3 linked regions of the Homo sapiens genome follow. The protein of the gene in region 3 purifies or fractionates together with the protein of the main gene of each other region. This does not show direct contact. Each region holds a gene or a part of one and is shown on either strand. Other genes may lie near its edges.

Region 1 (10,769 bases), on a different chromosome or scaffold from region 3:
TAGTGGCATTGTCCCATGAGCATAGTTTATTTTACAACTCAAAATTCCTTCCAGTAAGAATATGAATATTGCAAAAAAATAGTGTGATTAAAAATGGTCACTCCAGACACCTCTAAGTTATTCCAAGAGATCTCTTAGATAAAGCCCCTTTTAATAAAACAATTACCTTGTAAGGGGCTCACATGTACATTAAATTTTACAAAAGTATAAATATCTTCTATTAAAAGTTGACCACAGGTTGGATATGTGCGAAGTTAATAATGATCGATTCTCCATCTTTCTTTCTAACTTATTTTGTAATAATAAAAGCTCCAGACTCAAAGGAATCCTCCCAAACAAACAAAAAAGCAATAGGCCTTTATTAAATGAATCCAAAGCATTAGGAAACAGAGACGTAAGATGTGTAATTTTACTTAAGTTGTGGATTAATAAAAGGAATACTTTTGGGGGGTTTTGTTGTTCTTGTTATTTCTTCTAAAAGAAAATGGAATACATGTGCAGAATGTGCAGGTTTGTTACATAGGTATACATGTGCCATGGTGGTTTGCTGTACCTATTGACCCATCCGCTAAGTTCCCTCCCCTCACCCTCTACCCCCAACAGGCCCTGGTGTGTGTTCTTCCCCCTCTCTGTGTCCATACGTTCTCATTGTTCAAGTCCCACTTATGAGTGAGAACACGCAGTATTTGGTTTTCTGTTCCTGTGTTATGTGCTGAGGATGATGGCTTCCAGCTTCATCCATGTCCCTGGAAAGCACGTTACCTCTTTCCTTTTTAATGCTATATACTATTCCATGGTATATATACCACATTTTATTTATCCAGTCTATCACTGATGGGCATTTGGGTTGGTTCTATGTGTTTGCTATTATAATTGTATTGCAATAAACATACGTGTGCTTGTGTCTTTATAGCAGAACGATTTATATTCCTTTGAGTATATACCCAGTACTGGGATTGCTGGGTCAAATGGTACTTCTGGTTCTAGATCCTTGAGGAATAGCCATACTGTCTTCCACAATGGCTAAACTAATTTACATTCCCACCAACAGCATAAAGCGTTCCTATTTCTCCACAGCCTCACCAGCACCTATTGTTTCCTGACTTTTTAATAATCACCATTCTGACTGGCATGAGATGATATCTCACTGTGGTTTTGATTTGCATTTCTCTGATGATCAGTGATGTTAACCTTTTTTACATATGTTTGTTGGCCACATAAGTGTCTTCTTTTGAGAAGTGTCTGTTCATATCCTTTGCCCATTTTTTGATGGGGTTGTTTACTTCTTGTAAATATGTTTAAGTTCCCTGTAAATTCTGGATATTAGACCTTTGTCAGATGGGTAGATTGCAAAAATTTTCTCCCATTCTGTAGGTTGCCTTTCACTCTGATGATAGTTTCTTTTGCTGTGCAGAAACTTTAGTTTAATGAAATCCCATTTGTCAATTTTGGCTTTTGTTGCAACTGCTTTTGGTGTTTTAGTCATGAAGTCTTTGCCCATGCCTATGTCCTGAATGGTATTGCTTAGGTTTTCTTCTAGGGTTTTTATGGTTTGGAGTTTTACATTTAAGTCTTTAATCCATCTTGAGTTAATTTTTGTATAAAGTGTAAGGAAGGGGTCCAGTTTCAGTTTTCTGCATATGGCTAGCCAGTTTTCTCAGCACCATTTACTGAATAGGAGATCCTTTCCCCATTGCTTGTTTTTGGCAGGTTTGTAGAAGATCAGATGGTTGTAGATGTGTGGTGTAATTTCTGAGGTCTCTGTTCTGCTCCATTGGTCTATATGTCTGTTTTGGTACCAGTACCATGCTATTTTAGTTACTGCAATCTTGTAGTATAGTTTGAAGTCAGGTAGCGTAATGCCTCCAGCTTTGTTTTTTTGTTTTTGGTTGGTTGTTTTTGCTTAGGATTGTCTTGGCTATAGGGGGTCTTCTTTGATTCCATATGAAATTTAAAATAGTATTCTCTAATTCTGTGAATAATGTAAATGGTAGTTTGATGGGAATAGCATTCAATCTATAAATTACTTTGGGCAGTATAGCCATTTTCACAATATTCATTTTTCCTATCCATGAGGATGGAATGTTTTCAATTTGTTTGTGTCCTCTCATTTCCTTGAGCAGTGGTTTGTAGTTCTCCTTGAAGAGGTCCTTCACATCCCGATAGCTGTATTCCTAGGTATTTTATTCTATTTGTAGTGATTGCTGAATGGGACTTCATTCACGATTTGGCTCTCTGCTTGCCTATTGTTGGTGTAAAAGAATGCTTGCGATTTTTGCACAGTGATTTTGTATCCTGAGACTTTGCTGAAGTTCCTTTCAGTTCAATTTTGGGGCTGAGACAATGCGGTTTTCTAAATATAAAACCATGTCATCTGCAAACAGAGACAATTTGACTTCCTCTCTTCCTATTTGAATACCCTTTATTTCTTTCTCTTGCCTGACTGCCCTGGCCAGAACTTGCAATACTATGTTGAATAGGAGTGGTGAGAGAGGGCATCCTTGTCTTGTGCTGGTTTCCAAAGGGAATGCTTCCAGCCTTTGCCCATTCAGTATGATACTGGCTGTAGGTTTGTCATAAATACCTCTTATTGTTTTGAGATATGTTCCATCAATACCTAGTTTATTAAGAGTTTTTTACATGAAGGGATACTGAATTTTATCAAAGGCTTTTCTGCATCTATTGAGATAATCATGTGTTTTTTTGTCTTTGGTTCTGTTTATGTGATAGATTACCTTATAGATTTACATATGTTGAACCAGCCTTGCATCCCAGGGATGAAACCAACTTGATCATAGTGGATAAGCTTTTTTTTTTTTTTTTTTTTTTTTTGAGACAGAGTCTTGCTCTGTCACCCAGGCTGGAGTGCAGTGGTGCAATCTCGGCTCACTGTAAGTTCCGCCTCCCAGGTTCACGCCATTCTCCTGCCTCAGCCTCCCCAGTAGCTGGGACTACAGGTGCCCATCACCATGCCCGGCTAATTTTTTGTATTTTTAGTAGAGATGGGGTTTCACCATGTTAGCCAGGATGGTCTCGATCTCCTGACCTTGTGATCCACCCGCCTCATGCTGCTGGATTCGGTTTGCCAGTATTTTATTGAAGATTTTCACATTGATGTTCATCAGCGATATTGGCCTGAAGTTTTCTTTTTTGTGTGTGTCTCTTCCCAGTTCTAGTATCAGGATAATGCTGGCTTCATAAAAGGAATACTTCTTTTACAGTATTAGTTACTTGGTTTAAACTAGAATATCTCGGACACAATATTAGTGAGGCAAACTAATATTTTCAATAATTATCACCTGTTAAATGTGGAATATTATCACATTGGAAACAAAGATAAGTGACTTCAGTTTATATAATGACTTTTAGCAAAGGACATGCTACACAAATCACTGGCATTTTTACATTGACTAAGACATCTTTCTATGCACAAAATCCTTTCAGTTAAATATTTAAGGTTTTCAAGTTACATGCAGTTAACTCATTATCTGATGTGCATACTTTTGGGAATGATATAAATTTATTCACTGCATTGAATAATCCTTAAATTAAGCACTTACATGTCTTCAATATTCTATAGCTGGAATTTAATTGCCATGTGACCTAAGATTGCAACCTGTTCTTGCTCTGATTCAGCCTGGTTCATGCCTCGCAAAACACAGCTGGACTAACTTCCTGTGAATAACCTAGATTTTTGCTCTTTCCTTTTCATCTGAGCCAATTTCAGCAGTTCTGCAACTGTTTCCCCATAATTCTACTTAGGGCTATATTTTACAAACTTTCCTGAAAGATTGAAGATAGATACATACATACACACACATATATGATACATGCATGATGTATATGTATGTGTGCATATATATATATATATATATATATATGTATATGAAATAACATCATGTTTTGAAAAGCACACCTTTAAAGAAAAACTATAGATAACAGAAGAAGGGATATACTTAGGCAACCCTAGTTATGGAACACATTGCTCCAATGGCAGAGCTGTATCCGACACTGGATCCTTTAAGAGTCCAGAGCATGAAGGTCACCCCTGAGCTCACATAAAGGCAGCATAATGAACTTCAGTTGAATTCAGCATTTTATATGCAAGCTGCATCCTTTTATATGAAATAATTTTTCTTATTATTGGTTGTTCCTTAGAATGTGGCAGTGTTTCTCAAGTGTTTCTCAGTGTTAAGCCATATCCCCTAGGCATAAAAAGAAAAAGCTTATACGCTTCTAATATTTAATGCTATTGGAAATGCAAGGTAAATTAAATATAATATCTACAAATGAAGAAAACTGCTGCTTTGTTTTAAAACTACACAGGCCAGTTCTTCACCCTTTGAGACTCATTGGTGAACTAGCTTAACTCAGGACCCATCAATAATTTAAAAAGCAAAATAAAGATTCTGCTTCATCATTCACCTGAGTAAATAAATCTCCGTATTTCTGCAATACTCAGTGCTAGGGAAACCCAGCAACACCAGGCTTACCATGCAGTACAAAGAACACTGTCTTGGGAATCAGACAGTCCTGGCTTCTAATTTCAACTACAATTGCTGTGTAAGCCAAATTACTCAAGTTCCATGAATATCAAGTGCCTTGCCTCTATAATGTGGATAATAAAAACTGTGATATACAGCTGTTATAAGTATGAAAATGAAATAAAGCACATAACATTTGACACAATGTAGATATCCAAAGATTGTTCCCATTGCAGTTTCTCCCTGTTTGGAAGATCCTTGCAGAATATTATCTGGTGTCATAACATGGCTGGTCAAATGACTGCTGTTTTCATTTTCTAAATAATAGAAAACATGCACAAAGCATTATCACAGGAATCTAAAGGATATTTCCATAATTTGATAATTTATTGACAATCTATTGAAAATAATTGGCTACTGACAATATACTGTGGTATGTAAGTTCATCAGCTTTAATGTTAATTGAAACCTTACCTGGGATTATTGATAACCTTCACTAGTGCTTCATAGAGCTCTTTTTCAGTAACTGTCTTCCATTCTAGCAATATCCCCATGCCTTTTGCCTGTACTCTGGTCATAGTATCATAATGGTCTCCAAAGAGTGGAATTCCCACTACAGGCACACCATGATATATAGTTTCAAAAATACTGTTCAAACCACCATGGCTCAGGAAGGCTTTAATCTTTGAATGCCCTGAAGAAAGATGAAAAAGAAAACAACTTACAACATTATTACTCTACAGAAGAGATTTTCCCAGAAATTCATTAAAAATCGGCACTACAGTAAACATGCATTTCAGATAAAGGATTCCTAAAGGTGTAATTTCACTGATTCCTGCTCTACACCAATTAAAATATTTGTTATATACCTAATTGTCAGATTTTGATATATCAATTAAAAGCCATTTTTAAGTAGTTGAAATGTATATTACTATTTTTAACACAAATATTGCATGACTAACAACACATATTTAAATGGCCAATAATTATTATGAAGCCAATGAAAGCAAGAAATGCCAAACAATACCAGAGTGAAAAAACAGACATCTACTTTCTGGCTACTCAAATGTTTATCAATATTAAAGTCAAAAACACTTTTTAAAAAAAATGTAAAAAAGGGCTGGATTCCAGAAGTCCATGAAGAGTTTGTGTGCTTCTCCAAAAAGAAATGTTGTAATCACTATTCACAACATTCAAGTTCTATCAGCATTAATATTTCACAATTTTAAGGTTTAATTTTACATTTATGTGCTCAAACATGTAGAGGTAAACATTTATAATCATTTGTAAGACATGAGACATCACATAACATTTAGTTGTTATGGGAATAAAAAAGATAATTTGTCAAAATTAATATGGAAGTTCAAAACCTAGATTTACTCTCCTGGTAAATGGCCTACATTTCTATAAAAGGGATCAAAAGTTGGCATAAGAGTTGTAAAAACAAAACAAAACAAAAACATTGTACTTAGGATATATGTTATTGGCCAGAAAGAAATTATAGCTAGCTGAAATGTCGATCTTTTAAAATACACATGTGCCAGGTACAAAATTAATATGTATGGGAACCATGGTCTCAATGGTGCTCCCAGAGCTCTTCCATTCTGAAGACTGGTGGAATTGGTTAGTCAGTGTCTCTAGCCCTTACCCACAAGTGGCTTTTCTGACTCTTAGGTCCAACTAAAGGATCTGCCCTAGAAGTGGATTTCAAACTTTATTTTTAGCAAAAACCCCTCTCTTTGAACAAAACCTACCACCAAACCCAACAGTTAAATAAAGCAGAGCTGCTGTGTAAAGAGGAGGGGCGGCTACGAGGGGAGGGGAAAGACATTGATTTGGTTCCTACTTCTCATCCCGGAAGAATCTTTTGATCATAGTTAGAAGCTATTAGAGGACTCACAAGGATAGTGCCTATTGTTAAAAAAGATACTAATCTTGAAAAAGTCAGAGTTCTCACACTGAGAAGCCTAGAGCAGCTATGGACTTGAGGAGAGTTTTCAGGCATGGACCTTGCAGTAGAGCCTCACAGTCAAAAAAAAGAAAAAAAGAAAAACAATAAGAAATGGAAAACCCACACACAATAAAAGTTTAGATGTTCATACATAACAGTGTCACACTGTCGCACTGAAATAGTTGATAGTCAGGTTATCTCACTTAAACTTCCTGCTTCTTTCCTATCTTCTAAGGAATCTAAGTCATAACAGTAAAGCCATAAAAGATTTAAAAATAAAAAAATACAAGGATCAAGAAAGGTAAATTGCCTTGTATTCTTTTTTCTTTAGTTTTAGCATTTATAGAATAGTATTATAATAAGCTAGATGAAAATAAATTATATACATAAATAAAATTCTTTACTGGTTTTTAGTTAAATTTAGTTAAAAAACTAATTTAGTTAAAAAACACACTTAAAAGATACGCATATACTAATTACTATTTTAATTTTGAGAATCAAAATCCCCAAGATTAAATAATATAAAATGCTTCAAAAATGCCCAATGATTTAGGACTAAACAGAGCAGATAATCCAGTTAAAGTTAAAATAAATTGACTGTTCCCATGGTCTTCTGCTTCTCTTTGGTTTCAGACAAATGAATAACTTCTAATTTCTCTTGGTTCTCAGACCATCTGTAACAAACCTGTAACCTAAATCTACATTCTTATTGTTTTAACTGTTCTACTTTCATCTGATTACTCTAATTAGGTATAATCTTATTCACTACTAATTTATATAGTTCATTAAGTACATAATTTCCAGATAATTAAAATTGATGGCTGGTCTAAAAATTTTAATATAGAGGCCCAAAGGTTTACATTTTACAAACTGTTTTCCAATAAATAAAGACTTAAAATTTTGGCCTCAAATTTAAGATTTGAGATACTGGATAAAAAACATAATAACTCTACCATATACTACATACATACCGTATACCGTATGAACCTCTGAAGTAAAAAAAAAAAAAAAGTCACATTTATGTAATTAAAACCTAACAGCCAAGTAAGTAACCACACATCATTGACTTACCAAGCAGGTCATTTTGTGGTAACCATTCTATGAGTTTAGTGTTGTTTCCTAGATTCTTTGGTTTGGGTCCAGAAAACCTAAAATGTACACCAGACAATTAGTCTTTTAAAAATCAAACCTTACTCATAGTATGGGCTCTCTGATTAAATTATGAGATTTAAAATAAATGTTTGATGATCTTTTGTTGATATTCTTAAGAATGAAACCATGCTTTGGTAACAGCAAATATTTGATTAAGTTTCTTTTTAATAAAAACTTTCACTGGTTGGAGGAAAAACAAGAAATAATTTGCTTACATAGAGATCTATTTTCCATTGGTTCCTCACGCCTATACACATACAGAGATGGGAAAAACAAACAAACAAACAAACAACAAACAAATAAACCTACACTAGAAGTTATTCCCCACAAACAGCCAGAAGCTGGAACAAGAAGGAGCAGGGAGAGCTGCCACTGCTATGGCAGTCAATATCCCTAAATCCTTAACACCCTGAGTCTGAGGGAAGGCAGAAGTATTGAAAAAAATCAGTAAGTTCTCTTCTTTAGCTTCACCAGAAATAAAAGTTTTGTGGGGTGAAGCACATAATTAGGTTGTTTCCTGCCTGATCTTTAAAAGATAAAACAGAAATATGCTTAACAACTAAGAGGGTGACAAAAGAGTCTGAATGGAATAGACATAAACTGTCCTAAATGAAGCAGAAGAGGTACTTTCTGGGGTTAAGCCTAACAGAGGAAACCCAATGGGACTCGAATCTGAAGGGAAAAGTCCTGAACAGTTAGAATAAAATAAATATCACTGCATAGTTCAGCCAGGAGAAGTGGGAGCTAATCCTTACTCATTTGCTATAAAGGGAAAATCTCTATTACTCAAAGCCTACTTGCAATGGCTTAAGGGGCACTTTCTTCCACTCATGGTAGTAACTATGGGACCGACGTTGTATCCCTAGAGTTCAACAGTGGTAGTACGTGCTCAATAAATACACGCTAAATAAAGTGTTCACGTCTGATTTTTCAGCATTGGGCTGGAAATTCCAAAGACAGTCATGTGCTGGCAATGCCTTCCAAAAGAAGCTGGGGTCAATCTATGGTTCTGTCTTAAACCGTGTTAAATGGTACGTGATTGTGTTTTTAAAGGCCAGGTTTCTTAAATAAAATAAATCAAAAACATAATGTAAAGGAGACAAAGTGGGAGCCCAAAAGAGTCCACGGTATTTTAGGTATTCGTTAATCCATCATTTTCTTCCTCATTTCAAAACTGATTTGAAGGAGTATATAAAAAGGCATGCAATTAAAACTAATTTTTAAAATCATAATAAATAATAAAAGAGTAAACGAGGGTAGAACTCTGAGGGAAATGTAAGTATGCATCTGACACAAGGAAAAGTCATTCTGAATCATATCTTCTTTCTGTGCTATATAGGTCAGAGGTTTCTTTAACCATCATAGAGCCTTATGAATTAATTCCTAGATTTCAACAAGCTAAGAAACAAAATGAAAGTCAAGGGCATCTTGCTAATCTTGTCAGGGAAACAATGTGCTGTGCTTTACTGGGACCTGTGCACTAAACAAGGAGATATTGATTGTCAATAGCAAAGAAACAATCTACATTATTACCTTACCTCCAAATCACTTTTTGAGGCAATCTCCCCAGAGCTCCTGCCAGTTTGTTAGCAATGTCTTCTGACAGATACTTGACACCAGCTCCAAAAGACACCAAGACAAAGCCATGTTCATTAGCACCATTTACCCATCTTTGGAGATCCTGTAAATCAAAACATGGCAGTAAGTTTTACGAAGACCAATGTAGTTTATAATTGGTGTTATTAACAGCCCAGTTAAAAAAAAACCTTTTAAGTAATTTTCTTAAACAATTAGAAAGTAAAGGATATGATATTTTCTTCTAAATAACTGCTTTTGTTTACAACATTTCATCTGATAATGCTAACTGAAATGAGGACATGTGGTTTATTTGGTAAGATCTGTAAGTAACAAAAACAACTTAAAAAATCAGTTGCTAAAGGCTTAAAATCTCAGAAAAAGGTCAAAAATTGGAAATGACAACTGATGCATGTTCAGAAAAAAATTTGTATGCAGACACAAACAAAAGATGTGGATTAAACATATGAAAAATCAATCATACTGGCAAAAATTTGTTAATGTATCATTTACAAATTTTTGCCAGTATGATTGATTTGTGTTGAAAATCAAAGCAGTTCATTTTAAGAAATACCATCCTTACTTCATTTTGTTCTATAGGCACAAGCTTGTTTTTAATGATGCCATCCTTTTGAATAAATCTTTGCCAAAGACACCCAGCTTCAGTTTCCCATAGGAAAATAAATAGAGCCACGGCACGTTGAGGAACACATTAATTCCACTGTAAGAATGACACACTTGCTGTGCATTGATGACTCCTATGCCATAATGCAGTCATGAAAGCAGAAGCCTGACCCATTCTGTGTTCATAATGTGTAGAGTGAGCTGCCACAGTTATATCTCATAGACCCTGCAGGTCTCTAGCTCAGGAAGAGTTATTGCCATGCCTGTGTCAGCCATGCTTCTGCATTTGGCACCACTTTGTAGCATAACGTGATTTGTAGCTAAGGAGTACTGCACAATAAGAAGTATCATCACGGCCAGGCATGGTGGCTCACGCCTGTAATCCCAGCACTTTGGGAGGCCAAGGCAGGTGCATCATGAGGTCAGGAGATGGAGACTATCCTGGCTAACATGGTGAAACCCCGTCTCTGCTAAAAATACAAAAAAAAAAAAATTAGCTGGGCATGGTGGCGGGCACCTGTAGTCCCAGCTACTCGAGAGGCTGAGGCAGGAGAACCTGGGAGGCGGAGCTTGCAATGAGCCAAGACTGTGCCACTGCACTCCAGCCTGGGCGACAGAGTGAGATTCTGTCTCAAAAAAAAAAAAAAAAAAAAAAAAAAAGCATGGTCACAATGGCATCACTGCACCCCTTAATTAAGTATTTAATGGAACATTAAGCCTAAGTTTTCCTTCCTTTCCCTTTTTCCCTTTTCTATTCATTTTATCACCTAAAGAGATCTGTATTAACTTTCTCTATTGTACTCAGCAGGGGACAGAGAGACCACATTTTGTCTCTCAAAAATTAGCGAATAATGTCACTGCATGACCGAGACTGATGACAGAAAGGAGGTACATCCTTCTAGCTACTGAGTAAGTAAAATAGGCTACCATTATCTGGTAGGGAAGAAAACCTTACCAAAACATTGTATTTTCCAGGAAGCTCT
Region 2 (11,507 bases), on a different chromosome or scaffold from region 3:
TTTTTCTTTTTTTTTTTTTTATCTCCACTAGTCAGTAAGAATGGGAATAATACCGCACTAGATTGCTGGAATGATCAAATAAAACAGTTAGTTGGAACATGTGATGTAAGCCATGTAACTATGAACTGTGATTGTGATGATGAGGAAGTGGAGGAGGTGGATGGAAGTGGTAAGGATGACAAGTTTTAATGAGGCTTTAAACCCTTTGTGGAAACCATCTAAAATCAAACATTCGCATGTTTTTAAATACCCATAACAGTATCTAGAGCAGTGGTTTTCAATTAGAAGCATTTGGAAGTATGCACAGGGAATGGGAGTTACAATTTTTTGATGTCGCATGACTGAGACTACTACTAGAATATAATGGGCAAGTATGCCAAAGGTTCTGCAACACGTGGGCCATTCCCACACACCAAAGAACTGTCCACCCAAAATGCCAATAGTGTCCTGTTGGGAAGCACTGATGAATGTCCAACACAGAGGAAGCATTCATTAAACATTTACTAAATAAATGAACATAACTTATACTACATATTTCCTTCAGAGCACAATCTCTTGGAAGGCTCATTCTTCTTCACCTTCCCAGCTCCCCAACACTGAACCTGACACACAAGCATTTAGTGAGTTGTCTCTCAAACATTCCATCAAGACATCAAGACAATCTATTAAACTGCAAGAAATTCTAACTTGACATGGGCAAGTTAAGGTAATGATGTTCAACACATTCTCTCCAGGTATAAAGGAAGGCTGGAAAGATAATACTAAAACCTAGATGTCCTATGGAAATAAACAAAGCTTTGCTCCATCACCAGGTGTTTAATTTAAATTTTGAAACATGATCATTCCAAAAACAAAAATAAGAAAAGGCAATAATTTATAAAGATTTATATGCTTTACAGAGGTAAACTAACCCAAAGACATACTTTTCTTCTGAGTATCAGCTTGAATGTCAAAATTAAGCCACTTGGCTATCTATTTCTTCTGGGGGAAAAAGCCACCAGAATGTATCATATTACATACTTCCATGTTTCAAAAGAACAAAAGTCATTTTCTCCAGGACTGACATAATGAGAGCCAAGCAAATGTTGAAAGTAGCAAAAGGTTGCAAAGGAACTGAATGAAGAATAGTATAAAACAATGGCAATAGAGAAAAGCATGCATCATACAGTAGTTTAAAGATTAGATCATTTTTCCTAATTCAGAAAAAGGGCAAACGAGTATACAATAAGCCCATAGCCGGGTGCCTGTATTCCCAGCTACTTGGGAGGCTGAGGCAGGAGAATTGCTTGAGCCCGGGAGGCAGAGGGTACACTGAGCTGAAATCGCACCACTGCGCTCCAGCCTGGGCGACAAAGTGAGACTCCATCTAAAAAATAATAATAACAACAATAAGCCCATAGCATTAAAGAAAATGTATGTAGCAATGGGAGAACTTTTCAGATTTCTAAAATCATCAGAATAGAAACGGTGAATTACTGCAAATATACTTTTAACTCATACATTTTTAAAACACTGGAAATTCAATTGCAAGAATCCAAAAAATTGACTGTTTGAAAGACTAAGAAAAAATAACCAAATTTAATTTCATAATAGAAGCTTTTCATGTCTCAGGGCTGCCAAATACTGCTAGATTCTTAAGAATAAATTATCTATACCAATATAACCAGAAACTGCATTAGAGGGGATCTGTATGACGTGGCGTATAAAAGAAAAAATTCCCAGATGAAAGAGCGCATATAAGCAAATGAACAAATAAAGAACTCTCATTCAAAGTAATGAATACATTTTGATATCGGAAAGCTTCTCAATCTGTGTCTTTAAAGAAGTTAACTACAACAAAAGCTTCTCAATCTGTTTCTTTAAAGAAGTTAACTACAACATCTTTGAACTACTAACAATTTCCATTTATGTATGACCAGCTCATCTGAACTAAGTGTCAAGATGAAGCTAATTTTAATGCATTTTGTTTTTCTCTGTTATATACATAAAAAAAAAAATCTGGTAACGTATAGGCTATTTAAATGAATTCTTAGAAATTCATAGCAGGCCTCTAGTGGTATGGAGGATATAATGAATTTTATATTTTTTTAAGTACTGGAGTTTTTTTCACAGCAAGGAGGAGGAGTATCACCTGATAATACAGAAAAAAATAGATCACAAATAGATAAGAACCAAAATATTTCTTCAGGATGAGCACTTGGGTTTTAGTGCGTATAAAGAAGTTGGATGGAATGGTTTGGATCAATTTTCATTGACAGCCTTGCTTCCTAGCCACCTATTCTGAAGTGCACTCGATAAAAAGAGAATGTCTACTAAAATGACCTTGTGTCTACACAGCTTACTTCCAGATTACAAGACTCATCTGGCATCACAGGCCAAGCATATTCCATACAACTGGACACATGACAAACTCAGAGCAATTGATTACTATGTTTAGGTTTATACATTCATAAAAAAGTAAAATTTGAACCATCAACATGGCCAAGCACAGATGTTGTTGGCTCTCCCTCAAAAACTTATTGAGGCTTTAGTGTTCTTAATTCTATTACCAAAAAAAAAGCAATTCCAAAAGGAACCATAGAGGAGTTGAAGTCATTAAAAATGAGGAGGCCTTTCTGTTTTAACTTTTCTTACATACATATGCAAACTCAGTTTTACCCTGAAAGATGACATCTAGGAAAAAGTCCATTTTGTAAGCACCTACTGAAAAGAGAACTTTCTGTAGTATTGGCTGACAAAATGCAGTTTATCCCAAACTCTTAAAATTATTACAAACATGGAAGTCTTAACACAGCTCCACTTATTTTAAAAGTTTCTCAAATAGAATATGACCCCCTCACCTTCTTCCAAAAATAGTTAAGTGGAATATTTTAATAATTCATGTCTACAGTTCCCTTTAATAATTTCATTGATTTATTATGATACCAAGGGTATTTCATTTGGAGGTCTAAAATATCCCCTTCTTTGTGACTAAGAGGTAAATGCACATTTGAAGGGGTGATATGCCTTATGTTCTTCGAGCAATGTAATCTGCTGTGTGACATAAATTTTGGCTCTGATCTCACACTGAGGTTTTCACTCCATAGGCACCTGCTTGCAATTTAAATTGAAAGAATCAAAACTTGGTCTTGGATAAAGGAAAGATCCAATTTTCTGTCTGTGTCCTCAACGTAAAACAAAGATTCAATAGTAGTATACAGATTGCCAGAAACCACAGGCTAAAGAGATGTGGCAATTTCCTGAAAGATTTTATGTTTGGGGGGTGGGGGCGGGAGGGGGGCAGGTAGGGTGGAAAGGAGTTGTGGGAGGGGAGAGAGAGACAGAGAGAGAGAGAGAGAGAGAGGAGGGAGAGAGAGAGAGAGAGAGGAGAGAGAGGAGAGAGAGAGAGAGGGAGGGAGGGAGGGAGAGAGAGAGAGAGAGAAGAGAGAGAGGAGAGAGAGAGAGAGGGGGAGGGAGGGAGGGAGGGAGGGAGGGAGGGGGAGAGAGAGAGAGAGAGAGAGAGAGAGAGAGAGAGAGAGAGAGAGAGTCTGCAAGCCCACCATGATGGTCTCTCAAGCCCGCTCAGACATCTGCCCACCATCCACTGCAAGCCTCTTTCAAATGGTCACTTCCTATTATAAGGTTAAACTATAATCAACAAATCCCTTTCTTTCTCCTAACTCAAAACTGTAGTTTCCCATCTCCTTAAAGAAAAGGCACTATCCACCATTTGCTTTCTATTGTTAAAAGGGGCAATGCGTATCTTCTTTTCTTTATGGCACAATTATTAATATTACTCAGAAAGTCCTACCTTTACAAGTTATAATAAGTATCAACATTTATTTGAAATCATACTGTAAAATTTAAAAGGCATCCATATTTATGTTTTATTCTCACAATGACATCTCCAGGTCTTCAAACGGAAGACTACGACACAAATGGCCTGCCTTCACCGTGCTGCAATTTCTTCAACAGGTAACTTGCTTAGCCTGTGCTACGTATTCATACTGCACGTGGATGTCACTGAATGTCCTTTCTCTTCCAATACATATCTGTATCTAAAAGCACACGGTTTGCTTGCAGATTTTCTTCCTTCCCTTCTCCTCCCTATGGGAAGCTGCCCACTCCACCCCGAAAACACTGTCCCCCAAAGCAAGGGGACGCGCTGCACCCTCGGCTGTCACCGCGAGGGCTCGGCGCGCATGCGCGGCGCGAGCGGCCGGGCCCCACAGCCGCAGGTCGTTGGTAAGGCGGGTCCGCGGACCCCAGGTCGAGCCCAGCGGCAGTGCAGGATCGCAAGCGGCCCGGCACCGGCGCCGCAGGTTGTTGGCAAGCCTGGTCCGGGGTTTTAGGTTGAGCCCAAGCGGCAATGCGGGATCGCCACCGGGCCGCGCGGGCTTGGGAGGGTGACGCCCGCGAGGACACTGCGGCGTCCGGGGCGGGCGGGCACACTCACAATTTCAGCATCCACTCGCCCTCCATCACCAGCGTCCAGTTGGAGGCGGTCATGGGCTGGACCCGGCTCTGCTCCGGCGGCAGCGCGGCCTCCTCGGGGCCTGCCGTCGCCGCCACAGCCGCGATCCAGGCGGCCAGGAGCGCCGTTAGCTGCGGGCCGCAGCGCCCACCCGCCATGTTGGGCGCCGAGCGAGGCTTCTCGGCGGGGAGTGTGGGGAAGGGCAGCGGCCGGCCCGCAGCCTCGCTCGCCCGCCGGGTTTTTCAAGGAAGCGGGAGACGCAAGGGCCACCCCGCCTACGCCTAGCGGCGCAGACTGGCGGTGCTCGCAATGCCGCGGAGGACGCCACCTCTTATCGCCGCTTGCCCGTCGAGGCCACGCCCCCTCCCGCCTCCACTTGCCGTTGCCCGGGGTGTCGGTTACCTCAGCAACCACCGCCCTTTCTTCCTGACCGCCAAGCTGACAATAAACAGATGACCCAACGTTGCCTAAGTTAGAACATGCACCGCTGCTGCCCAGGCTCCAATAAGGGCAGGGTTGGCGCGTGTGGGCTTCTCTAAAGGGAAACATGGCCAGTAATTTTAAAATCCATCCCCTCTTCAATGATAGCAAATATAAAAGCAACGGGCTGCAAGGTACACGTATGTTTAATGAAAAATGGAGGGACGTGGTGAGTATCTCCTGCTGAAGAGAGAGGAAAATTTAAGTACTCTGCATGTGTATATTGAAGCATCACTAATTTAGGATATTGATGAAACTAGCCTATGCAATTGCATTTTTTTTACAAAAAATGTTAATTTCATAGAAACTCTTAAAAACATGGGTACTAGCCGATAAAATGAGTCAATTAAGACTATTGCCACCTGCAGTAAAATGGACCTCACATTTCTCTTGACTACAGTTTTGTCAGATCTAAAATGAGGGTAGCCTTAAGTGATTTCCAAATTTCTTTCCAGGTCACATTAGATGAATCTGTACCTTGGGACCACCACACCGTTAATATATAAGACTGGATTACAATTAAAGGATGAGGAAGCTTTCTCAAAGGGTGCTTTGTATGTGTTTACTAGTTGTGCAAACCATGAACCTCGGTAATGTGGTTAATAGACCATGAAAAGGATGTGGTTTCTGCCCTCGGCTTAAAACAAAGACAGCAATAAGACTAAAAGTACTTCAGGGCACATGAGAGCAAATTTCAATCAATACTTATAGGAGAGGGAAGTTAATTTTGCCTGAAGAGAAGATCTGGCCTGCATTATGCATTAATTAGTATTAGCTAAAAACTATGTGGACCTAGCCCTTATCATTAAAATAAAACACTCAAGGGTTTACAAACTATTGAAATTTAAGAAAATGTCTTTGCAATGAATGCTACTAAGACTCACTGTTATTAAGTACATACATATCAATTCCATAAACTCAATGGAAAACATTTTACTGTGCTTGTAAAAAGAAGTGACTCATAAACAGGAATTCTGTCATTTTATCACTTTCATGATAGAATGATGTGTAGAATTTGTTTTACAATGCTCCAGAAATAAAATGTAGGGAATGGAAAGAAGATAGGTGAAAGAAAAGTGGTGCAACATCAGTCAGTGTTGAAGCTAAGTTCATTTTGCTACTTTACCTACTCATGCATATGTTGGAAAATTTACAAAATGAAAAGCTAAAAGGAGAGAGAGCATCTTCAGCATGAAAGACAGCCATTACCAAAGCATTTCCTATCTTTAACAAAAACTGAAGTCTTAGCCTTCAGACTAAGGATGGTAGGAAGAAAGTAGCAAGGAAGTATGGGACTGACCTTGCCGTAAGGAGTCACAGACCAGGGTAAGGGACCTGTTGCTGTCAGACCATGATTGGCATCTTAGCCCTGACACTTCCTAGCCATGTGATTTGGGGCTAAAACTAGTCCACACCAAAGTTCTCTTAAAATGCGGGTAGTAATAGAACCTGCTCCAAAAGGTGGCTGTGAAGATTATATGAGATAAGAATAATGCCTAGCACATATTCTAACTCAAAAAGCTTACATATTAGGTTGGTGCAAACATAATTGTGGTTTTTGCCACAATATTGCCAACACTAATATTATTATTTGGAGGCAACAATACGCTGTAATGTCTATTTTTCTTATACTAAAGTTAACTTCACTTAGCATGATACACAATGCCTCTCACAGCCCAGCTTCAGTTTTGCCCACTTTACATTCCACTATTCCCAGAGTTCCCTGTGTCCTAGTAACACAAAGCTACTCCCCATTCCCAAAGCACATTGTGTACTTCAGTGTCTCCTTGCTCCTTCATTCTGATTAGAACACTCTTCTCCAGTTGTCCAGTGAATCATTCAGTCTCTGTCATGTAGTCCACACTGTACCTCTGATAGCTCATGCAGAATGAGCTGCTGTCTCTTCTCAGATCCAATTGCTCTTCTGTATAACTGATATGGTTTGGCTCTGTGTCCCCATCCAAATCACATTTTGTAGCTCCCCTAATTCCCACGTGTTGTGGGAGGGACCCCATGGGAGATAATTGAATCATGGGGGCGGGTCTTTCCCATGTTGTTCTCGTGATAGTGAATAAGTCTCATGAGATCTGATGGTTTTAAAAATGGTAATTTCCCTGCACAAGCTGTCTCTCTTTTGGCCTGCTGCCATCCGCGTAAGACATGACTTACTCCTCCGTGCCTTCCACCATGATTGTGAGGCTTCCCCAGCCATGAGGAACTGTGAGTTGAATAAACACTTTTTCCTGTATAAATTACCCCGTCTCGGGTATGTCTTTATCAGCAGCGTGAAAATGGACTAATACAATAACTTCACCACATACCTTTCATAGTATAATGCATTTATATGTAGCTATCACCCTCTACCCTCACTCCTCCAACCACTACTAAAAACTCTTCAAGGTCAAGGGCTTTACCTTATATATCTTTGTGTCCCCTGTATTGCAGAATACCCATCCCATAGATGTACTTGGGATAGACAGCTTCTGGCACTCCTCCCAAGATCTCTCCCTCCTGGTATTCAGGCCCTTGTGTGATCCTTTCCTCTTGAGTGTGGGTTGGGCCTGGTGACCCACTTCTAACAGAAGATGGGAAAACTGATGGATTATCACTTCTTTGTTAAGGTTACAAAAACCTGAGACTTCCATTTTGCTGGAAACTTCTTTTCCTCTTGCACACTCACTCTGCGACTCTGTGTGGAGAGCTCCATGTGACAAGGGAGGTCTGCAGCCTAAGCAACTGAGACCTCAGCCCAACAGCCCTCAAAGAACTGGATCTTCAAACAACCACATGAGTGACCTAGAAGCAAATCTGTCACCAGTGCTCTTGAGACGGGTGAGCCTTATAAATGACCCAGAACCAGGGGGCAAAGCTTAGCTTAGCTGGGACCTCCACCCACGGAAACTGTGAGGTAATCAATGTTGTTACATAATATCAAGCCACTAAGATTTGGGGCAATTTGTTATGCTGTAATGCTATGCTAGGTCAGTGTGTGATCCATGTTTATGTTTAAAACGTGGATTTACAGGTTTAAGAAGATTGGTACCTGGTACTAGGAGAAAAGGCTTTTTCCCCCAGAGTGATGGTGGCACTGCAGGGCAGCTATGATTACACAAAAATATGTGGTTCCTAGTAGGCAAAGGAATTCCTAGGCCTCTGATGAGGTAACATCATTAGCAGGAGAGAGGGGAAGAAGAGTGTGGTAGATCCTATCTAGTCCCCCTCTCTTTCCCTGCCCCACAGAGGAGGATGCTCCTACACCCCTCAGAAGTTAGTCATATTTATATGAATTGGCCAATGGGCTACAAATGGAAGGGGTGGGTATGTATCATTTCCAGGCTGAAGTATTTAATCACCGGCACAAAATGTCCCAGTGTTCTGTTCTCCTGCTGTGGAAATTTTAGAGAAAAGATCATGATCTAAGAGTCTACAAGACCAGAGCAGCCTGAATTGCTGAGCTGCCTGGTGGAGAATAGCAGCATTGGGTGGTTCCCAGGATTCTTAAAAGGACTTTACAAAGGTAAGAAATACGTTTTCACTATGAGAGATTATTCAGGTTAACTATTTCTGCCTAATCAACCATCCCAAAACTCACCTCTCATGGTTTTGGGGGTTCAAGAGCTCAGCTGGGCTATATTTGCTTGTACTCTTTTATATGGTGGCAGACCCCTGGAGGCCGAGGCCAGAATTAGTTGAAGTCCCTTGCACCCACATCTGGCACTTAGTGTAGGCTGGCTGGAACAGCTGGGGACTGCACAGGCATTGCTCTTATCCACGCAGTCTCTCCATGTGGCTGGCTTCGGCTTCCTTCAGCATGGCAGTTTGAGGGCTGTCATACTTAATTTCTCTAGAGCAAGAGTTCCCAGAAGGTGGAAACTGCATTGCTCTAGAAGTCTAAGAGTGTCGTTTCTACCTCATTCTATTAGTCAAGGCACTGAAGACACACCAGACTGAAGGGGAGAGGAATTAGACTATCCTTTAATAAGAAGCAGCAAAATAAATTGCAGCCATACTATCAAAAAGCCACTCTGAAAATTTGGAATTGTCACTGAAGCATAGTCTAGCCTATTTTGACTAACTCACTGCCTTCCTTTGAATACTTATTTATGAACAGCTGAGAGTTCTTTATTTTGGAGGGGAGGTGATATTTTCAGAGAGCAGAGTAAGAACTGCCTCTCCGTTTTTACCTTCTGTGAGTAGGTCCTGTAAGATGCATCTTATGCAAAGGTATTGGAGAAAATGATTTTCAAGCCTGTGGGCGGGTAGATGGATTGATGCCTTGGTATTTAAGTGTTCATTAAATGTTACAGAATTTTTGTTAAGCTTATTGAAAAAAAGATTCAAAAGTGTATGTTGAGAATTATGTAAACACACCTATTTTACCCTTGAATAATGGAGTAGGAAAACGATTTACCAAGAGGGATAAAACTTATATTCTAATGGTAGAAAATTTTAATACATAGCTATAGACAATGCCTTTGATAAAAGTAGGTCAGGACTTGATATTAAGAGGATAATCAATGAAAGATAAGGAGATGGTATTCAGATTACAAACTCTGTAATAATAGGGTATAGTTATACAATGGTTTTCCTAACGAAGATGGTAAAACCAGTATGGAAATATTAAATAAGTTAAGCAATGCTGTAAAATTAGTCCATAAAGTAATAATAGTACAAAAATTTAATTACACAAACAGATTTGCTAAATGCCTTACAGGAACAAGAGGTAGAATGGAGAATTTAAATAGGACACAGTAATATTTCCTAGAACAGATGGTAGAAGAAACCATGAATGATGAAAATACACTGAATTGCACCCAGGCTTGTGCCTAGAGACAAATCCAGAAGACTTGATAAGCCTCTAAGAAGCAACCCCAGGACAATGTCATGGTGCAAGAAAATCATCTAATTATTTTCAGAACTAATAAATGAGCTGAGGAAAAGAGCAGTTACATGCAAGAGAAACATACAAGTCAATTATTTTCCTGTACACTGCTTAGAATTAATTTTAAAATGTAATGTAGACAAAGATCTCATTCAATAGCAAAAAAAAACCCTTATGTTTCAAAAAACTAATAGAAATATAAAAGACATAGAAAAAACTGCAGGACCTTATATGACAATTATCATAAATTAATCTATAAATCTATAAATCTAATGCAATACCATTGCAAATCTCACCAAGTTCTCTTCTATAGAATTCTAAAGATCTACCTTAAAAATAATGCTTAAAACCAGCCAACAGGATTTTGAAAACGAATAATGATGTAGGTCTTGGCCCTCTTAGATATTAAAATCTGCTATAAAGTTACAATTGAAGAGGGAGGTATTGACATGAGAAGAAGCAAATAAATGAATGGTTCAGAATGAAGACTCAAAAAACAAAACCATACGCTTACGGGTATTTAGATAGGTTAAAGGTGGTATATTAGTCAGGATAAGATAGACTTAGGCAGCAGTAAAAAAACAACCCCTAAAATCTCAGAGGCTTAACTCAAAAAGCTAAGTTCTCTTTTGTGCAAAATTGACTTTGGGACGAAGAGGTTCTGTAGGGAAACTATAACTTGGGGAGGGTCTACACAATACACATTGCTTAAATCTTGTATCTCTGCTGTCGCAACATGAAACTTTTTCCATGATCACAGAAATATAAAAGGCGGCAAGAAGCTTTTTCTTTCTTATCCACAAGTAACACCTAGCAATCCAGCTCATAGGCCATTGGCCAGAACTAATCATAAGACCTCGCCTAAAAGAAAGAAAAGATGGTCTAACATGGGAACTAAATATTGATGAACATAATAATGTTCACACATGACATTTCAAACCAGTGGGAGAAATTCGACTAATATACAATAGTGTTAGAACAATTTCCTCTTCATTAAGAAAAAAAGTATATCTCTACCTCAATCTATATCCAAAATAAGTTCTAGATCCACTAATGAAAGAGCACAAAATTTAAACTGCTCTTGGAAAAGTGTTTGGAAAATAATTATATAATCATCTAGTGGGCAAAGCCTTCCTACGTAACATATGAAACACAGAAGCTATAAAAGGGCTTTAGGAAATTTGCCACACAATTAAAAAAACATCAAGCAAAGTCAAACCAGGTGAAATGATCTGAACTATAGATAGCACTCAAAGGTTTAGTGTCACTGAAATTCAAAAAGTTCTACAAATAATTAAGAAAAAGATATTCAAACCAGCTGAAAAATATGGAATATTACTTATAGAAGAACAAAAAACAAATGACATATGTATATGAAAAGCAGTTCATACATACTGCTGATCAGAAATATACATTTTATACCAATACAGTTTGTTGGATGATTCCTTTTGGGGTTAAAGCAATTGTGATTAGGACTAGCCATGCTGTTATTGTAAAATCTTCAGTGGACTCAAATCACAACAGCTTACGTTTTGTAATTATTTCCCCCTTTCATTTTTTTTTTTATTATACTTTCTGATTACATGATATTGGGAGACTGGCATGTGTCAATTTTAAGGTAAGAGTAAATGGAAATGAAATATTGGTATAATATTCTATACCAATTGTGTGCCTCAAATTGTACATTAAGGA
Region 3 (10,769 bases):
ACATCGGTTTATTTCTGGGTTCTCTATTCTTGTCCATTGTTTTGTCTATTTTCCTACCAATACCATGCTGTTTTGGTTACTATAGCCTTTAATATATTTTCAAGTCAGGTAATGTATTACTTGCAGTTTTGTTCTTTTTGCTTAGGATTGCTTTGGCTATTTCGTCCCTACAAATTTTAGGTTTTTTTTTTCTATTTCTATGAAAAATGTCATTGGTATTTTGATAGGAATTGCACTGAATCTATAGATTGCTCTTGGTATTATGGTCATGTTAACAACATTAATTATTCTAATCCATGAGCATGGGATATATTTCCATTTGTTTGTGTCCTTTTCCATTTCTTTAATGGGTGTTTTATAGTTTTTCCTGTAGAGGTCTTTCACCTCCTCGGTTAAATTTATTCCTAGGTGGTTTTTTTTTTTCTGTAGCTATTGTAAATGGTTTTTCTTTTTTTCAGATTGATCGCTGTTAGCATATGGGGACACTGTTGATTTTTGTATGTTGATTTTGTATACTGCAACTTTACTGAACTTGTTTATCAGTTATAAGAGTTTTTTTGTGGAGCGTTTAGGCTTTTCTGATTATAAAATCATGTCATGTGAATGAGTGAAAATTTGACTTCCTGTTTTCTAGTTTGGATGTCTTTTATTTCTTTCTCTTGCCTGATTGCCCTGGCTAGGACTTCTCGTACTGTGTTGAATAAGAGTGGTGAAAGTGGGCATCCTTGTTTAGTTCCAATTATTAGAGGAAAGGTTTCCAGTTTTTCCCCATTCAGTATGATGTTAGCTGTGGGTCTGTCATATATCCTTTGCCCATTTTTGAATCAGGTCATTTGTGGTGTTTTTGGTTGTTGTTGCACAGGGTAGTACTTTGAGACTATGTAAATACCGTCTTCCTTGTTTAACTTTTACCCACTACTTTTAGCATCCTTTGTTGCTTCCTGGCTGAATTATTACAATTATGGTTACCAAATGGTGATTTTCTAAGTTCATCATTTCATATCAGTTGGCTTTCCACTTCATGAAAAATCCTTCCCCTCTCTTGATTTATTTATTCATGCATTTATTTATGACTTCATGGACTTATTTCCTATTGTTGCAATGGGTGATAATCTGTTACTACTATTTGTTTTGATGCCTCAATGGTTCTAGGTTTGGCTAGTGGGATCCCTTTAAAGTTGGCCTCTGTGTCCTGGTAATGTGTGCCTATTATCCTTTGAGCAGTTCTGTACTTACTGGCAGAACAAGATTTTCAGGCTTATCTTGTACCTTTCTTGCCACTGCCCTGGAATCAGTCATTTCTCTAAGAAGCCTTGGTGGTTTGTTGTTGTTGTTTTTTTTTTTAGTGGAGAATGATATTTAGAAAACAAGATCTGGGCACCAAGTGTGCTCCCAGGTCCTGTCAGTGGACAGAGTGAGTGAATACATGCATGTATATGTAGACACACATCTATATTTATATATCTGTCCTTGTGTATTAAACAACTATTAATTCATACCCACACTTCCAATTGCAATCCAACACTAGAGGATTCATTCTCATTTTCTTCCTTTTCATATTTGTAACATTGATAGTGAGAACCTGGGGCTTCCAAGATCTGCAATATGTATTACTTATGTGATTAATGCTCCTGTATGTGATCATTCTTCATTTGGCCTCTTCATCCCACCTAGGTTCTGACACCCCAGTGCCAGGCTACATGAATGCCTGGTGAATGCCTTCTTTACCCTATGTCGGGCTGCCCATGGCAGGCCCTCTTGCAGATGCTCTCATCACTCCCCTTAGTTCTGATGCCCTGTGCCAGGTGCCACATGAAGAGCCTCCTTGGCCCACTTAGGCTCTGAAACTTCACACTAGGCCACCACTGCTGCCCCATGTGAGGATGCCATCCTCATCTCACTCAGTCTCTGATGTCCCAAACCTGCTCTGTGACACAAACCTGTCCCATCCTGCTCAAGTTTTTCAATCTGTGCTGCCACCTTCCTCCCCGGTGAAGATGCCTATCTTGCTTGGCCTCTATGAGTGGCTTTTAGATTGAATTATTCAGAGCCAAGGATGCTAAAAAATGCTCGACAATGCATCAGACAGTCCCACACAATGAAGAATTGTCCCTCACCAAAGGCCAATAGTATCCTTATTAAGAAGCCCTGACACGAAGGCCTAGAAACAGAAAGGAAATATGGAGGGAAAATATGACTGTGAGTCTCCAACACAGTTTAAGGAAAGACATGAAGCCAGAAATCCAGGTACTAGCAAGCTATTTTATCATTTGTTCATTCAAGAAGAATGTGTTGATTATTTGCAAAATTTGTTAGCTCCAGGGAATCAGAGATGAATGAACAATGTGCCTGCCTTTAAGGAGAGCACAGCCTAATCACTGTGAGTAAAATGCTGTATTTCAACAGCTTTCAGAGGCAAGCAGTTGTAAAACATACTACTATTTTGTATACCAAGAAATAAAAACCCTTCCAATAGATCTGTAACATGATTTTTATCCCTTAGAGTGTTTGTTTTATGTTTGTTGCTACTTAGGTTGTTTCTAGTTTTTGTTTGTTTGTTTGTTTTTACAACTATAAACAATACAGTAACAACTTGGCTTACACTAGAATGTGGGTGCACAACAGGTATCTTGCCTTGGCCTTCTTGCTCCCTGCCATAGCCTTGGCATCTGGCATAGTGCCTGACTCAGAGTTGACCTTCATGCATATTTTTTGAATGAATGAATGAATGAGTATATTTGGGAAGCACTTGTTCAAGTTTGTTTATAGAATAAACTTCTCAGACATGAAGTTATGCTCTCTCTCCCTGACCATTCCTCTTGAAGTACTTAAGCAAATTTCTACTTATGGAAATCAATATAGGCAGCCCTCTGTATCCATGGATTTTGCGTCTTTGGATTTAAGCAACCATGGGTTAAAAATATTCAGGAAATAATTTTGTGTCTGTATTGAACACATACACACTTTTAAAATCTTGTCATTATTCCTTAAATAATACAATATAACAGCTATTTACATAGCATTTACATTGTATTAGGTATTATAAGTCATCTAGAGAGGATTTAAAGTATCCAGGAGGATGTGCCTAAGTTATATGCAGATACTATGCCATTTCATACAAGGGACTTGAGCATCCATGGATTTTGGTATCTGTGGGAGGTCCTGGAACCAATCCATTGAAGAAATTGAGGGTGTGTGTATATGATTATATTTAAAAGAAGGAAGCACAGCAAGAAGCAAATAATTTCTGAAATGAATTTCTCATAAAAGGTTATGAAAAGAGGCACAAAGCAATGGAAAAAACAACACACCCAACAACTTATTGAAATGTTTCTATGATTATAAAAGTTACACATGCATGCATACACACACAATGAAAATTTGGAAAATGAAGAAAAATATGAAGCTAAAAACAAAAATCATTCATTGTTCTGTAATTTAGATATAATCATGCTAATATTTTGGAAAATGTCCTTCCAGAGATATAGATACAGCTATGGATACAGATACAGATATAAATATAAATATATAGTACAACTAGTTATTTTCCTACTGCCAGACATTTAGGTTACTTCCAATGTTTTGCAATTTAAAAAATCCTACAACAAATGTTTTTGTACCTAAATCTGTGACTAATTTAATAGCTATTTCCTTGATATATTCTTGCACTTAGACTGGGTGAAATAAAGGAAACATTCTTTTTTTTTGAGATGGAGTTTCACTATATTGCCCCAGTCTGGAGTGCAGTGGTGCGATCTCGGCTCACTGCAACCTCCACCTCCCAGGTTCAAGCGATTCTCCTGCCTCAGCCTCCCAAGTAGCTGGGACTACAGGCACCCACCACCTCGCCCGGCTAATTTTTGTATTTTTGGTAGAGACGGGCTTTTGCCATCTTGGCCAGGCTGGTCTCAAATGCCTGACCTCGTGATCCGTCTGCCTTGGCCTCCCAAAGTGCTGGGATTACAGGCGTAAACCACTGCGCCTGGCCAAAGGAAACATTCTTAAGGCTTCTGGTACATATTTCCAAATTACCTTAGACAAAATGACAAATAAAGACCTAGACTTTAAAAAATACACAAAAATAAACAATTAAATGAATATAAGAATCATGCATTTTTCCTACTCTGAGTACAGTCATCTCTCAGTATTCAAAGGGGGATTGGTTCCAGGATCTTCTGTGGATACCCAAATCCATAGATACTCAAGTCCCTCATATATAAAATGATGTAGTATTTGCATATTACCTATGCACATCCTCCTGTGTACTTTAAATCATCTTTAGATTACTTATAATACCTAATTTGGTGCCTATGCCTTATATCATTTCTGTGAATTCAACATAGTACCCAGCATGTAGCAAATTCAAGTTTTGCTTATTAGAACTCTGTTAATTTATTTCCCCCCATTTTTTTTTGATCCACATTTGGTTGAATCCACAGATGTAGAACCCAGGCATGCAGAGTGCTGGCTGTACACTGATCTTGTCCTTTTTCTTTTCTTTTTCTTATTGTTAAGAAATTCAAGTGCCAATATTGAAGCTTAAGCACAGGATCTATACTGAGTCTAATTTGGGCACATTTATATTCTCCTTTTCTTAAGACCTAGTTTTCTATTTGTGTTTTTCCAAATAGAATGTATTTGTTGTAAGCCTTCTCAAACTCCTTGGTAAGGAAACGTAAAGATACAAATGATGGTAGAACCTTGCTATTTCCATCCACAAGTGCACTTGAATGAAACCTGTGGTCTAGCAGGGATAAGTAACCTCAACTACCTAAGTTCAGCCGAGCCTTTCCAGAAAAGAACATGAAGCAACAATGATTACGGGTAGCATTATATTATTCTCAACCTGCACTAAATTGTCACTGTCTTCATCAAAGAGTCTTCCTCCCTTTCAAATCTCCCCCACTCCTTTCTTTTTGGGGCTGATGCAGAACTGAATTCCTAGATAAATCTAGCAGATTCTGTCTCAATCCTCACAGTGTTGCCCAAACACGATCTCTTAAATTTAGACAACAATGATTATATTTTATAGAATAAATTTTCTGGAATTTTTATGCCCAGGTTGCTGATTTTACTCTGATCTCCTTCTTGGCATTCTTATAGGCCCTATGGATGACACGTCTACACAAACACATACCTCACCTCTGCGTACTTCTACCCATCCCCCCAACACACAGCTCAACCCTGTGCAGCCATCGCCACTCCCCATCCCTCATGTAAATGCTTACGTTCACATGGATAAACACTTCCACTCACCTCAGAAATCCTGGTTCCTGAAGATTATTTCTGAGGTAATTGGATTTAAGGGTAAAGCGGCATTTTTTCTTAGAAAAATGAGAACAACTGTGGCAAGGGATAAATTGCCCCTTTCCACTCTGGTTCTGAGGCCCGTTCATAATCTGGAGTTTGGGATCCCCCCACCCCCAATAACCTGAGGCACAGCTATACATTGAAACATTGGCCCACCTTTCAGGAAGGAGTGGGTATGCCAGAACTGAAGGCAGGGATGACATTAACATCTGTATATCCTTGTCTATGCAAAACATCATTATAGGTCTTCCAAGTCCTGTTAGTTGATATGTGTAGTTGAAAAACCTGTTTTTCTCCCCCCACTTCATAATGTTGAATTTTTGAAATAGATTTAGACCACACAGGCAGACCTCCACTGACAAATAGGTTAAGATCCAGCAAGTGACTTCATCTGTTGGTTTGAGTTTTCCCACAGAGCACTGTCTTATGAATGTTTGCCCCCGGCTAGTCAACTCAACTCAAAGTGCCTGAAAGACTGCACACGTACATTAAAAAACAGTATGAAACAATGCTGCGAATGAGTAAAACAGGAAAGGAATACATTTGAATAAGACTATCTATATATAGGGAAAGTTGATTTTTTAAGAAGATTTACTTGGAGAAAAGTGAATAGTTAACTGGAGACACTTATGGAGCTTCTCAAGAGAAGTCTGATTCAAAGGTTATTGACAAGGTTCTTTTATTCCTTCTGATCTATTTTCATTTTGAATATTTAAAGCAACTGAGTCTTTTGTGATGTCCAGTTTCACTTCAAAATATACCTTGCATTTTCCTTGATCCAGAAGGATTACTATCCCTACACGTATGCTTGCCGAGTATGTTTAACATTTGTGTTATTAGTAGTTATGAGTAGTATTAGTAGTATTTGGATTACCAATAAACCCAAAAAAGAGAAATGATGAGGAAGTTGGATTTCTAAAGTTAACTTACCAAAATATAGTAGATAAAGACAAAGAAGAAACATTGAAATGGCTCTGGTGAGTTCTGAAAAAGACTTCATAGGAGGTAGGGGGCTAAGTAGATTTTGAGAGGAGAAAGGAGCAGAGGAAGACAGGGTTTGTCCGTGATTCCTCTCAGGGGCATAAAGCAGGTGGAGAAATGGCCTTAGATGCTCAGTTCTAGCTGCCATGTGTGCAACTGATGACACACACCACAGTGATGGGATTCACCAAGCCCAGGAGCCCGAAAATGAAACCAACTTTACTTTTCTAATATTGAACCTAAGATGACCTATTTTGACTAATGTCAGATAAACTTTTTTCCAGATGTTTTCAAATGTTCTCTGCCCACTCCAGTGATTTTTTTTAGTCATATTCAAGTATTAATATTTCTACTTTGGTTTGTTTCACAAATGCTATTTAGGTATTCTCTTTCCATTCTTTCTCCTACCCCACTGTCCCCTGCACGCACTGCCGGATGGAAGGACTTTGTTTTTTGTGATGGACCTTGAATGTGAGAGGGAATGAGTCTTTTGTGTGTGTGTGTGTGTGTGTGTGTGTGTGTGTGTGTTTCACATGTGGGATGGCCTGGAGGGTATACTTTTTTCTAGTCTTATGTGTTTTTTAGCATGGGTGATGTGGGAGAGATTGCTAGTTGTTTATCAATATCAGTGTCTTTTACACAAATAGAACTTCTGATTTTTAGTTGGACACATGTTCCCTTTGAATAAAGATAACAATTGCAGCCAGCTGTGGCAGAAGAAAAGTGTACACCTTCCAGGTGGTATCCTTCTTTTTTCATTTTCTTGAGTTAGAATTCAGACATGCCAATGAGCCATCTTGGACATGCAGGTGTAAACAAGCACTCTAGGAATGGTGGTTCTGAGATAGAAGGCCTCCTGGACAGCCTCATAGGACAGAACTACCATATCAGCCCTGGACTGCCTTTCCAGGGTGTTTTGTGTGAGATAAATAAATTTAGATTTGCTTAAGCCATTGTAAATTCGGGTCTTCGTTACAGTAGCTGAACTTACATCCTAACTAGCAAGTGGTGGAAGGAGAGGAGGCTAATCAATGTAACGGGATGTTACACATACAAGAAACTTGCTCAATAGGTGCCAAGAAAAGGTGGTGAATAGTGGATAGATGTGGACTACAAGGAGGTTCCCAGAAGCAGCAGTATTGTCTCTGTTAATGCTACAGAGGTAACCAAGCCTTTAAGGAACATATTAGAAGTATAGTATTCCCATGTAATGCAATACCCAGAAATGCATTGTGGAGAAAAAACAATTCTTTATCACTGAAACTCAATAAACAACTTAAGGTATTCCCTAGAAGAAATGATTAAAACTCCATCCCAGTACTGTTTGGCTGACCTTAAGATCAACTTGATGTTTAGCATCCCATATTTATAGAGTTTAGATTTTAAAGAGGAAGGATTAATGAACATGTTTACTGACTGATTAAAAGAATACATCATAAAGCAGAGAATATTCTTCAGTTGCGGCAAGACAGCAATGTGTCTGTACTTTGCAAGTTCATAGACAGGTTTCAAGGCAAAAAAGCTGGAATCTTTTGGCTACACAAGCAATAAACACCAAAGATACTCATCCAGCTAGATTTCCTACCTCCCAGAGTTCATGGAAATTACCAAGTGTCATTCAATAAGTGTAGGAGATATGGGGAAACAGAGATTATCAGAATTTCATCACGTCCTTGGGCTCAACAGTAATTCTTAGTCCTTCTGAGCACATTTAGATCATGGGTACATTCTAGAAAGTTACATTCGTCAAAGGTGAAATACATCCTTTGCCTAGAGTGAATGTATTATTTAATCAGCTGAAATCATTAAAGCCACCTACATCATGACTGATGTGAGGATTTTGTCCAATGCCCTGGGATGGATTGGGGATGTGCCCAGCACCCTCCCACTCAGTATGCATCTGGAAGCTCTCCCTTTCTTCCAGCCCAGAGAGAGTCTGTGTCTGGGGAGGGGTGGGGAGTGTGTGTTGTCTGGGAAGCACCGGGATGCATATCAATCACACTGTTTGGCGGGTAGCACAGACACACTGCCCCTTTATCCAATCACTATGCAGGCCGTCCCTGGGCCAGAAAGGAGAACTCTTTACGATACAGATGGTGCTATTAGTTTCAATAAGAATGTTTGTGAAGTGCTTAACAGTTTACAGAGTCCTCTAGGTTATTTGTTTTTATTTTGCCAGGAACAACATTTAGATGGCGGATTTTGATCCTGGTGTTTGCACTTTCCAGCCACATCCTTCTAACTGACTAATCAACAAAGATGTGTGGAACTTGTCTCCTGGATCTATGATAAAAATGGGCCTAGAAATGTCCCAAGCTGGGAACTCACTGGTTTTTTACTGGTGATGGCTTCTGATGCTACCACCATCCAGAACACCAGGGACCTCTCTTGATCCCACAGATATCTTTTCATGACCATTTCTCTGGACACATTTCCTCCCTACCCAGCTGGTTGTTTAAATTGATCTTTTCATGTTAACATGTTCAAATTTTAGAGAATACACCCACTATAGGCAGGTCTGTTCATCTTTTTTTTTTTTCTTGTTGTTCATTTTATTTAGCTTTAGCTTAGCCCACTTATCAGACACCTGTGTGTTGTTAAAACAGTTAACTTCTCAGTTGTACCTTCACATTTACATAACTTCACCAACCTTTTGGTCATGGAGGAAGCAAAGTCCTTTTTATCCATTGTGACTAGGTCTCTCACTTAGGACCAGGACAAGCTGTACCTCCAGCAGCCTCTCAAGTCCCTTCAACCTTCCTTTGTAGAAAACAATTCAGGCTTCCAATAGGCACTCTGAACTACTGCTTTTTCTCTGCTACTTAAAAGAATTTTGTAGCCCATCTACCTTGACCAATCCTTCATTTTTTATGGTGTCACTAGTTTGTAACAGTGTCTCCTTTACTCAGGATGCGTGCCTCTCATTGAGTCCACAAATCACCCCCCTACAAGTCTCTTATCAGTACATCTGCCCATTCATGCATATGAGTAAGCTGTTAATCAGCTTTTGTTTAATATTACTATGAACATTTCAACTTCAAGTTAATATTGTAACTAGGTCTCTCCCTTAGGACCAGGACAGGCTGTACCTCCAGCAGCCCCTCAAGTCCCTTTGACCTTACTTTGTAGAAAACAATTCAGTCTTCCAATGAGCACTCAGAGCTACTGCTTTTTCTCTGTTACTTAAAAGAATTTTGTAGCCCACTTACCTTGACCAATCCCTCATTACTTCTCTGCATGGAAACTGATAAAAATTTATGTCTACTTCAGAGCCTGGCATCATCCCTGGCATTTTTTTTTTTCTTCTACCTTCCACATATGTCCCTGTCCCACTTACCAGCCAGAGAGGAGACGACAACAATGCTTCCATTGCTCTGCTTCAGCATGGGCAAGGCAGCTACAGTCAGGACCACGTAACTGAGGAAGTTGACTTCCATGCTTTTGCGCACATGGTGAATATCATCATGAAAAAGATTCAAAGAAGTGTTGGTGATGTGGTTGAGAATGAGCATGTCTAGTCCTCCTGCAAGAGATGGCTATATTAAGAAATCATCTGGGGTTGATACCTTTCCCATTCTCCTCCCAAAAGCTCTTGGTGACCCCAAGGGCAAAGTTCAGAGGAGGAGGTAAGAGAAACAGCCTCACCCATGAGCTTTCCTGCTTGGGCAACAAATTGCTCTGCGAAGGTCATGTCTTCCATGGTGCCAGCAATGTAGTGTGCTGAGGCTGCTCCAAGCTCCAGGCAGTGGGATACCACCTGCAGTGATACAGCAGAAATGGCATCAGTCTTAGCTGCAGATTTTTGGGGGGTAGTCTCTGAAGTAACGGGGGGCTTAAATGAGAGATTGCTCACAGCCCTGTTTAGGTAAGAAATGGTAAGTATGTTTGTGTGTGTGTTGCCTAATATAACCCTCATGATCATCGTCCTCTGTCTGAAATATTTTCTGGAACTTGGTGGGGTTCAAATGGATAAATCATCCCAGTGCTGGGGTTTAAGTTCATGATTTATGCTCATGGCTTCTGTGAATAGGCATTTCTGAGGGCATTATGAGTGTAGATGCTGGTTACTATGTGGGTAGCTCTAGGTTTGTGAATGTTTGTACATCCTTGGGTTTGTGAGTCCATGAGAGGGCATGTGTCTGGGAGTCTGCATGGGTATGAGGATATGTATTCATAAGCAGGTACTGGGATTTCAGTTTTTGAAAACATCCGTATGTATCTGTAGTTCCATGTGTAAATGTGTGTGACTAGGCATGTCTGTGAGCATATATAACTCAAGGACTCTGTTGCAGAATATATTACACACACACACATGAATGAATGCTTAAATGCATACTTTTATATTCCTGTGGGTTTTTTGGTGTTTGAATCTATATATGAGAGTGCAAAATTAAGTGTCTGTGTGTGTGCATGTGCCTCTGTATATAGATCTGCGATATGCTAGCTTCTGTGTATATGTGAGCATATATAAGAACACA

What was found.
Region 1: the proteins of HSD11B1 (region 3) and UGT8 purify together in Homo sapiens (affinity purification with mass spectrometry; 3 studies listed by BioGRID and IntAct, with this or other methods). This does not show direct contact.
Region 2: the proteins of HSD11B1 (region 3) and TMX4 purify together in Homo sapiens (affinity purification with mass spectrometry; 3 studies listed by BioGRID and IntAct, with this or other methods). This does not show direct contact.

The regions. Positions count from the first base shown.
Region 1 is NC_000004.12:114,662,494-114,673,262, reverse strand, and holds part of UGT8 (2-hydroxyacylsphingosine 1-beta-galactosyltransferase precursor), read right to left. Parts: intron 9,269-10,769; coding exon 9,126-9,268; intron 7,584-9,125; coding exon 7,507-7,583; intron 5,179-7,506; coding exon 4,959-5,178; intron 1-4,958. UniProt on the Homo sapiens protein: Catalyzes the transfer of galactose to ceramide, a key enzymatic step in the biosynthesis of galactocerebrosides, which are abundant sphingolipids of the myelin membrane of the central nervous system and peripheral nervous system.
Region 2 is NC_000020.11:8,015,003-8,026,509, forward strand, and holds the start of TMX4 (thioredoxin-related transmembrane protein 4 precursor), read right to left. Parts: upstream 4,760-11,507; 5' UTR 4,612-4,759; coding exon 4,436-4,611; intron 1-4,435.
Region 3 is NC_000001.11:209,705,988-209,716,756, reverse strand, and holds part of HSD11B1 (11-beta-hydroxysteroid dehydrogenase 1), read right to left. Parts: intron 10,049-10,769; coding exon 9,937-10,048; intron 9,815-9,936; coding exon 9,629-9,814; intron 1-9,628. UniProt on the Homo sapiens protein: Controls the reversible conversion of biologically active glucocorticoids such as cortisone to cortisol, and 11-dehydrocorticosterone to corticosterone in the presence of NADP(H).